Linked DNA regions of Homo sapiens: region 1 is linked to region 2. The links come from fine-mapping of genetic effects on gene expression. Tissue or cell type: lung. Region 2 holds a variant in brackets; the other region holds the start of a gene. All regions are shown on one strand. Distances are from middle to middle.

Evidence for each region.
Region 1: it holds the start of UGT3A2, and the variant in region 2 is fine-mapped to the expression of UGT3A2 in lung (TOPMed, PIP above 0.99). The same link has a PIP of 0.9 or more in blood mononuclear cells.

What each region holds. Positions count from the first base shown.
Region 1 is chr5:36,063,746-36,069,132 of GRCh38, forward strand. It overlaps UGT3A2 (UDP glycosyltransferase family 3 member A2), which reads right to left and starts at 3,137. Exons shown (of 7, transcript NM_174914.4): 1 at 2,951-3,137; 2 at 504-605. The coding sequence starts at 3,044.
Region 2 is chr5:36,084,303-36,089,689 of GRCh38, forward strand. No RefSeq gene overlaps it. Among named protein-coding and RNA genes, the nearest start is that of UGT3A2, 20 kb to the left of the region's middle. The variant C/T (reference allele first, on the strand shown) is at 2,622.

The DNA of each region.
Region 1 (5,387 bases), 21 kb before region 2:
CACCCTCAGCCTCCCAAGTAGCTGAAACTACAAGTGGGTGCCACCATGTCAAGCTAATTTTTGTATTTTTTGTAGAGACAGAGTGTCCCTATGTTGCTCAGGCTGGTCTCAAACTCCTGGGTTCAAGTGATCCACCTGTCTCAGCCTCCTAAAGTGCTGGGATTACAGGTGTGAGCCACCTTGCCCCACCATGTTTAATATATTTTTTAAGCCATCTTATAAAGTAGTATTTGTTAAAATAATCCATAATAATGAGTGGATGGTTGCTTGGGATGGAGTAGAAGTCAAGTAAGGGGAAAAAAAAATATGGGAGTATGGAACGTCAGGTCCCGGTAATTAGAGACTAAGAAGTTTTTTGGCACTTTACATACACACACACACAAGCTTTTCATCCTTCCAATTGAATTAGATTTTTAAAAAACATTTTGCTAAGCCTTTCTATGCAAACAGCATTTTGCTCTTTGCTTGGAGTAGGAGAAATCAAGAAAAGTGAGAAAAGATACCTGGCATAAAAGGACCTCTTTTGTGGTTAAGCATGGTGACATTATGACCGTGATCTTGAAGAATCTGAGAAACCCGGTCCATCAGTAGATAATGGCTTCCACCTAGGAACAATGCACAACTTCAGTTCTGGAATGATGAGAATACAGTGTCTGAAGTCAGTAGTGATCAATCCAGGAGAGGAAAGGTAAGGAAACAGAAGTGGATAGTGATTGGAGGAAGATGAGTTTTGCCAGTCTCCTCATGTCCCTCTGGGTAAAACCCAGCCCACTCACCCAGAGCATGGCCGCCCAAATTTTTACCTGTGGCTCTGGTCCGTGAGAGATTGCCTCTTGTGAATCACGGTATCCATGTCAGTGTAATGAGCTACTATGTGCTTAGCCATGGGAGTTCCTCATCCTGAGGTACATGTATATTTTAACTAAGGCCTTATGGAGACACAGAGTCCAAAAGAAATCACGGCACTGGTGGAAATACAGGTATGGTGTTGTACATATGAGTGTGAATAGTTCCTAAAAAACAATGAGAGCTGTTTCTGGGATCCTGCTCTTTGGACATTTCTGCTGCTGTAGGAGATAGAAACCTTAAGAGATTGGTCCAAGAAATCATCACTGGAACAGAAGGAATGAGGGGCCACTACTTAGAATCCAAATCCTTAAGATTCCAATGTATTTTGAAAGGATGTACTTAATTTAGGCCACACAATGATCAAGTTCTAATTAAGACATTTGAGGACAACTGTGGGGCGCTTGGGGTGGGCCTGCTGGATCCTGGTTGCACGAGAGACTAGGGAATCATTGATTCCAGAAACATCCATCCTAAGGAAAGAGAAGCTTGATCCTCAAAAGAGGTACAAGTTCCACGAAATCAATGTCTTCTCAGTACATGTTCTAATACACAGCCTTTGCTTGAATCTAAGGTTCTCAGCAGCAGAGAAAGGAAGATCAGAAGAGAAGGTAATGTAATAGTAAATACCAAAAGCCTGCGGGGTGGGGGTGGAAGGGAGTAGAGAAGTAGTGTTCAGCTCTCTGAATGACTCAGTTTACTTATACCCAGGCTTGAATAGTCTGGAGCAACAAGGGACGTATAAAGTACAAATCTGCAACAGGTCTTGCTCACATTTTAATCCACGTAAGAACAGGGAGCTGGGAAGAAGGGGTCCCCACAGAAACAGCTGTTAGCGGTGGATCTTGGGGAGTCAGGTGGCTTTCTGGGGCAAAAATCAGCATTCTAGCACCTCAGAAATGACATCAACTCCTTCTTGGAGCCTGAGGAAGGAGGGCTGTGTACTTTCAAGAAGTTAAGAAGCTCTGTTGCTTCACTGCTACTAACACTCAGAAAGAGGGGGAAAAAGTCTTCAAATGGACTTGCACTGTTTCTTAAACAGTGATTTTTGAAAATCCCCAGTGAAAAGGGCTTCAGAGTGGAAGTTGTGGTGAGCATGGTCTTGCAGTAAGAAAACCCTGAGTTAATTCCTCATGGGACATCAGGGAGGCCACAAGTGCTCTTAAGGAAGGCATCTCACTCCCCATCCTTCAATTGCCCTCTCAGGAAATGAAAATGGGCACTAAATTAGATGATCTGTGGTTCTTCCCAGCCCTACGAGCCCTAATTCTCCATGATCTAAAAGGAATCCATTAGAACCCACTATGGGTTGAAATAAAGTCTTGGGGAAGCTCGATCCTGAGATGATCCCTTTATGTTCATATATGTTTCTCTTTTATCTTCTATTCCCTTTGGGGTAAAAGTAAAAGAAGTAAAACTGAGACCCAAAATGCAGAATTAACAGTCCCATGAATCCCTCAAATAACGGTCAGCGGCACAGGTAAAAGGAAAGATACTCCAAAAGATGCGAATGACCTGGATCTTCTCCTCAGCCCTCGGCAGTTCTCCAGGTTTCCCCTGGTGGAAAACACTCCACTGGCATTGCAGCCATGAAATACCTGCCTGCGCCACCCTGGCTCCGGATGCAGCTTCACAACATTTGCAGTGCTGCCCTCAGGAGGGCCTTTCCCTGGTCTCCAAGAGCCTGAAAACGCTCACCACTGTTTCTACTGGAAGCTACTGTGCACCCACACACACGCACCCTCCGGAGCTTAAGGTGAGCCTCTGAAAGTCCCACTGCGCCCTGGAGAAGGCAGCCCAGGAACTCAAGCTCTGGGATGAGTCTCAAATTTCTGGCCCCAGCCCTGCGGGATGGGGGCGCGTCCTGAACAGGAAGAAGACAGTAAAGGAGAATCTCTTTTCTCCAAAACTTTCTTCCCCACCTCAGCAATAGAGGCCCCTCTCTGCCCCACAGCTGAATGGGCTTCTCCCTCCTCCAGCCGGGTCCGCAAGCCCAGCCTGGAAAATCACGTGGATGACTCTGATCAAGCGCTGTTCTCTGGAGCCCTGGCAGTGCGAGTATCCGGGACGCGCCTGTCTGGGAATTCTCCGGCCAAGCACTCACCTACTGTAGATATTGTCAGGATTTTGGCAGCCTCTGAGAGCAGGACCCCAGGGAGAAGGAAGCCCACTAGAAGAAGCACTCGCTGCCCAGCCATGCTCACTTCTACGGAAGCCGCGGATCTCAGCCTGGGCTGCGCGCCCTGCGCCCGGCTAAGGGACCCTGTGCACCTCAGTGCGCCAAAGGCACTGGCTGTGGGTAGAGGTAGGAGTAAGGATCCTGCCAGTCTTCTCTTCTGTCCATCCCCTCTTGCCCTCTGCCCCTCCTCCCTCGTGCTCCATTGGATAATCTATCCTCGCTCTACCAAACTACCAGCAGTCAGTAGGAGGGGTCGGTGAGCCCATACTTAACCCTGCTCTGCCCTTGTGATCACAGCCCTCCTGCCTGGAAAATCCTTACTGTGAGTGAGGAATGGCAGGGACCTCAGTAAATCGAGCTGATGAAAGCTCTATCTCCATGGGACCCACCTCTCTTTTGCAAAGGCTGTGTGAATTTACCTACTCTAGTTCCCTTCTAACTGCCTCTATTACCTCATACTGCCAGCCCCGCGATCTATTTCCTGAGAGACTTGCTTAAAATCTTGAGCTGATGTTCCAAGCCCAAGACCTCCCTGGAAGGGAATCCCCAAGGGAAATCAATCTACCATCCCTGGAATCTATCTCTTAGTGTCTCTTTAGAAGGTAACATTCCTGAAAAGAGGCTAGAGTCCTACCTCTGGAAGTCCAGGTCTGTCCCTGGAGGACTGAAATTCAAAAGCTGAGACTATCATTCTGAATGAGTATCCTGAAATAGGACTGGTGAATCTTTCCATAATTTCCAAGAGCACATGCTGATGACAGCTTGTAATTCTGCCTCCGTGCAATGTCAGCCCCAGTGAGGTCAGGGATCACCAGGTCCGGTAGTCCCCTTTACTCTCTATCCTCAAACTAAGACTTCCTTTAGGAAAGGCTTTCAGTGCAACTCTAAATAAGCAGAGAAATCCTTGGTTGCAGTGGGTCCTTGAATTCTGCGTGTTCTATTCCTGCCTTCTTCAGTCTACAGGGGTTATTTTTTCTCATTGGAATTTAAAGCATTACATTCTTATGCATTTGTGCATCCCTCACCTAGCCATGCCTATTGTGGAGAAAGAGGAGAGAGAGAGAGAGAGAGAGAGAGAGAGAGAGAGAGAGAGAGAGAGAAAAGTGTGGGAAGGGCGAGGTTTACCAGACATCACAAGGCTCCAGTTCGTCTTATTCTTGTACTTTTCATAATGCATTAGCAAAATAAAGGATTTGTTATCAAACTCCAAGATTTTTATTTATTCAACAATTATATTGATAGATTTTTTTTTTTTTTGAGACAGAGTCTCGCTCTGTCACCCAGGCTAGAGTGCAGTGGTGCACTCTCAGCTTACTGCAACCTCTGCCTCCCAAGTTTAAGCAATTCTTCTGTCTCAGCCTCCCGAGTAGCTGGGATTACAGGTGCCTGCCACCACACCCGGCTGATTTTTGTATTTTTTAGTAGAGACTGGGTTTCACCATGTTGGCCAGGCTGGTCTTGAACTCCTGACCTCACATGATCCACCCGCCTTGGCCTCCCAAAATGCTGTGATTACAGGCATGAGCCACCACGCCTGGCTGATAGCTATTTATTATGCCAGGCATTGTTCTGCCAGGCAAACTGATACTAAACACACTAAGAAATAAAATATATAGTACATTAATGGCAAATGTTACTAAGAAAAATCAAATGGAAAGAGATATGAAGAGTCAGGTATCAGATTCGTTAACGTTTTACATAGCATGATTCCAATGGACTCTAAAATATTATAGGAGTATCAGAGATATATGAACCCAAATTTTGAAAATATTAACTAGTTATTGTTGCTTTGGAGAAGAGTTCTATGTAATTGTGGTTATAAACATCTTATAAAGAAATTCTGGCTGGGTGCAGTGGTTCATGCTATAACCCCAGCACTTTGGTAGGTGAGGTGGGGGGAACACGAAGTCAGGAGTTCAAGGCCATCCTGGCCAATATAGTGAAGCCCCGTCTCTACTAAAAATGCAAAAATTAGCCAGGCATGGTGGCATGTGCCTGTGGTCCCAGCTACCCGGGAGGCCGAGGTGGGAGAATCGCTTGAACCCAGGAAATGGAGGTTGCAGTGAGCCGAGATCGCAGCACTGCACTCCAGCTTAGGAAACATAGTGAGACTTTGTCAAAAAAGAAGGGAGGAAGGAAGGGAGGAAGGGAGGGAGGGAGGGAGGGAGGGAAGGAAGGAAGGAAGGAAGGAAGGAAGGAAGGAAGGAAGGAAATTGGCTCTTAAGGTACATTCTGAAACATTTACAGATTCTGTCTTATGATTTCTCAGATTTGCTTCAAAATAATAGGTTGTGGGGGTAAACAAGGTTAAATGTGGGTGGCAGGATAAGAAAAGAGAATTGCCAGGAGTTAGTAATCACTG
Region 2 (5,387 bases):
TGTTTGTGATTGAAACAAGATTGAGGACAACCTTGTCCTCCAAACAACTGCACCAGTTCACCAACAAGAGTTCTTAACCAGGATGAACTGGCTGGAATTACAGAAATAGAATTCAGAATATGGATAGGAACAGATATAATTGAGGTTCAGGAGGATGGAAAAACCTAATCCAAAAAAATAAAAAATAAAAATCAAGATAAAGTGATACAGGAGCTGAAGGACAAAATATCTGGTATAAAAAAGAACTTAATGGATCTGACAGAGCTGAATAACACAATACAAGAATTTCACAATGCAATCACAAGAATTAGCAGAATAAACCAAGCTGAGGAAAGAATCTCAGAACTTAAAGACTGGTTCTTTGAAATAAGAAAACCAGACAAAAATAAAGAAAAAAGAATAAAAAGGAATGGACAAAACCTCCAAAAAGTGTGGGATTATGTAAAGAGGCCAAATCTATGAATCACTGGCATCCCTGAATGGGCAGGGAAGGGAGGGCAGGAAGCAAACAACTTGGAAAACATATTTCAGGATATCATCCATGAAAACTTCCCCACCCTTGCTAGACAAGCCAACAGCCAAATTCAGGAAGTACAGAGAACTCCTAAAGGGTCTACAAGAAGATCATTCCCAAGACATATAATGGTCAGATTTTCCAAGGTCAAAATGAAAGAAAGAATGTTAAAGGCAGCTAGGGAGAAAGGGCAGGTCACCTACAAGGGGAACACCATCAAGCTAACAGCAAATCTCTCAGCTGAAACCTACAAGCCAGAAGAGATTGGGGGCCTATAGTGAACATTCTTAAACAAAAAAAATCTTCGACCAAGAATTTCATATCCAGCCAAACTAAGCTTCCTAAACGAAGGAGAAATTAGATCCTTTTCAGATAAGCAAATGTTGAGGGAGTCTTATAAGAGATCTTGCAAAAAGCACTAAATATAAGAAAATACTGTTACCAATCACTACAAACACACATGAAGTACACAGACCAGTGACACTATAAAACAACCACACCATCCAAGCCAACATAATAGCCAGCTGACACCACAATAAGATCAAATACATACATATCAATACTAAAATTGAATGTAAACAGGCTAAATGCCCCCACTTAAAAGGCACAGAGTGGCAAGCTGGAATAAAAAAAAAGCAAGACCCAATGGTATGCTGTCTTCAAGAGACCCATCTTACATGAAATGACAGCCATAGGCTCAAAATAAAGGGATGGAGGAAAATCTAACAAGCAAATGGAAAACAAAAAAAAAAGCAGGCTGCATTCCTAATTTCAGATAAAACAGGTTTCAAACCAACAAAGATAAAAAAAGACAAAGCATTTTATAATAATGGTCAAGAGTTCAATTCAACAAGAAGACCTAACTATCCTAAAGATATATGCACACAACACAGGAGCACCTAGATTCTTAAAGCAAGTTCTTAGAGACCTACAAAGAGACATAGACTCACACACAATAATAGTGGGAGACTTTAACACTCCACTGACAGTATTAGGCAGATCACTGAGGCAGAAAATTAACAAAGATATTCAGGAACTAAACTCAACATTGCACCAAATAGATCGGATAGACCTTTACAGAACTCTCTACCCAAAAGCAACAGAATATACATTCTTCTCATTGCCACATGGCACATACTCTAAAATTAATCACACAATTGGATATAAAATAATCCTCAGCAAATGCAAAAGAACCAAAATCATATCAAGTCATGGATTAAAGGTTTAAATATAAAACCCCAAACTATAAAAACCCTGGAAGACAACCTAGGCAATACCCTCCTGAATATGGGAATGGGCAAAGACTTCATGACAAAGACACCAAAAGCAATCATGACAAAAGCAAAAATTGACAAGTGGGATCTAATTAAACTAAAGAGCTACTGTACAGCAAAAGAAACTATCAACAGAGTAAACAGACAAACTGCATAATGGGAGAAAATATTTGCAAACTATGCATCTGACAAAGGTCTAATATCGAGCATCTATAAGGAAGGTAAACACATTTACAAGAGAAAAACAACCCCATTAAAAAGTGGGCAAATGACATAAACAGATATTTTTCAAAAGAAGACATACATGCGGCCAACAAGCATATGAAATGAAAGCTCAATATCACTGATAGAGAAGTGAAAATCAAAGCCACAATGAGATACAATTTCACACCAGTCAGAATGGCTACCATTAAAAAGAAAAAAAAATAACCGATGCTGGTGAGGTTGCAGAGAAAAGGGAACACTTATACACTGTTGGTGGACGTGTGAATTTGTTCAACCATTGTGGAAAGCAATATGATGGTCCCTCAAAGAGCTAAAAACTGAACTACCATTCGACCCAGCAATCCCATTACTGGGTCTATACACAGAGGAATATAAATCATTCTATGCCCTTTCTCTACCTTTTGATTCCTGCTCTGCTCTGCTGACCTCTCATCTTGGCCCTGCCTAGAAGTCCAGGACTGGCAGGTCTCCATGGAAATCACATAGGGGACAGGCCCTTTGCTGAAGTGGGCAAGTGATGCCCTGACCAGCACTGACACAGTACACCAACTTGAGATACACAGAGTCCACCTTCGATGTTCACATGTCTCCCTTTCTGAACCTTCTCT[C/T]GATTTTTGGGTGCCCCATCACCCTTCTTACGAATTCTAACTAATTCTGTACTCCCCACCCCACCCCAACTCACAGGGAAGAGACAGAGAAGTGGTGAGGTTTAAAAAGCAGCACGAGGGTCTCCCTGTCTAGTATACTAATGAATACACCTGTACCTATTATAATGCAGTAGCCCAGATCAGGGCAGGATGGTGACTCACTAAATTCACTCATTTATACCTGGTTGATCCTGCCAGTTAAAGAAATGCACCCATTTATCTGTTGAGTCAACACAAATTTGTTGAGCATCTACTATGAGCCAGGCAGGGGTGATTCTTCAAATAAGACAAACAAAAACCATCCCCTGTGGAGCTTGTATTTGAGTAGAGAGATGAGCATTAGTATATAGTATATTAGGCAGTGATAAGGAGAAAAAAATAAAGCAGGAAAGTCCCCTCTGAGAAATGACTTCCCAATAAAGACCTGAAGGAAGAGGGTGAGCTAACCATGCAGATGTTCAGTGTTTCTTAACAAATGAGTCCCTGCTATGGGGCAGCATTATGGTTGGCATTTGCAAGGGCATTATCTGATTATGATCCTCACAGCAACCGTGAGGAGTATTGTATGATAAGACACCCCTTTCTCTTTTTTTAAACAAATAATGAGTTTGAGGTTCAGGTTTACTGACTTAACCAAAGTTCCCAAACACCATATTAAGAGATACCACTCTCTTATCAATTTTAATAATTAGTAGTTTTAAAATTGTTCACATACATAACCATGTCATAAGAAATAAAAGCTTGTTTCTTTTTTTCCTTATCCTTAGGTCTTTCAGTTCTCTTTTCTTGTCTTATTATTTTGGGACACACAATGTTGAACAGAAGTAGTGAAGGCAGGCATCCTTGGCTTGTTCTGGATCTCAGAGGGAAAGAATGTAGCATTAAGGATACTTGCAGTAGTTTTGTGTTCTTGTTTACGAATACATATTTACTTATAGGTAGATAGATAAATAGATAAACATTTATTAGAAAATGAATGTTTACTTTTATTCCTTGTTTCCTAGGACTTTTAAAACACATAAATAAATATTGAATTTTATTTAAATGTTTCCTGCATCCATTTGTGATGGTCATGTGACTTTACTCTTTTCCACCATTAATGTGATTTATAATAATTTATTTTCCTTTTTAAAACCCTTTTAAATTTTGCGGCCAGTCACGGTGGCTCATGCCTGTAATCCCAGCACTTTGGGAAGCTGAGGTGGGGGGATCACTTGAGCTCAGGAGTTTGAGACCAGCCTGGGCAGCAGGGCGAAACTCATCTCTACTAAAATTACAAAAATTAGCTGGATGTGGTGGTGCACACATGTAGTCCCAACTACTCAGGAGGCTGAGGTGGGAGAATCGCTTGAACCCAGGAGACGGAGATTGCAGTGAGCCGAGATTACACCACTGCACTCCAGCCTGGGCAACAGAACAAGGCTCTGTCTCAAAACAAACAAACAAACAAACAAACCTTTCAAATTTTGAAATGTAACCCATATCCAAAAAAGTGCATAAAATATAAATATACAGTATAGTGAATAAGGATGAATAGAAACATACTTGTAAAAAATATTCAAGTGAAGAAACAAAACATTGCCCCTTGAGTGATATCTCTGAATCGGAAGCACTGACTTTTATAGTCAGTCCCCTCACTTGACTTTCTTTATAATTTGCCCAACTATGTATGTATTTCTAAACAATAAAGTTTAGGTTTTGGTAGTTTTCCTGTTTTGGCTATATTGGATATATATTTTAAACCATTCTATCTTTCTTCTATTTAAAGCTATATCCCATTTCTATTCTTTTAATGATTGCAGAGGTTCTAACAAGTGTCCTTAACTTCTCAAAGTCTACGTTAAGCAATATCTTTACCCTCTTTCTGAATATTACCGCAACCTAAAAACACTATAACACTATTTCCTCCACTCCCAATTTATATGGTGAGTTGTGTAATTTAATTCTCTCTATATGTAAGTTTTGCCTTTTTATGATGAAATAAAATGTACATACAGCAAAGCACATACAAAAGAAGGTACTACTTAATAATTCACTACAAAGCGAACCCCTGTAAAACCACCACCGAAGTCAAAAAATAGAACGTAGCCAGCAATCCAGAAGGCTCTTCTGTGCATCATTGCAATCACTAATCCCTTGGTCCCCCTCAAAGGTAAGCAATAGCCTGACATGTATGGTAATCTCTTCCTTGATGTTTTAAATGTTTTTACCACTAGGCATTCCTCTTTTAACTCTACAATTTTATTTTGCCTCCTTTTGAATTGTATGTAGATAAAATTATATTCGATTATTTTTTCCTGTTTTGCCTCTTTTGATCCATATTATGTTGGTGAGTTTTATCCATGTTGTTGTATAGCTGTAACAAATTCATTTCCATTTATTCAGTGAATTTATCCATCCTTTTAGGAAAATTCATTCTGTTGAATGAGTTGTTTGTGATTGGGCTATTATGAATAATGCTACTATGAAGAATATTTTACATATCTCTGGGTGCACATATACACATGTGGATATATATATATATATATGTACATATACAGTAAAATTCCTGAGTATGAGTACTTCAACTTTAGTAGATATTACCAAAATCGTTTTAATGTGGTTTTACCAATTTATACCCAGTGTTCAGTTGCTTCACATTCTTGCCAATACTTATGAGAAAAGAAAAGAGTGCTTATCTGAGGAATATGAGTCTTTTTAAATTATTAGGCCCAGAGAAACATTAAA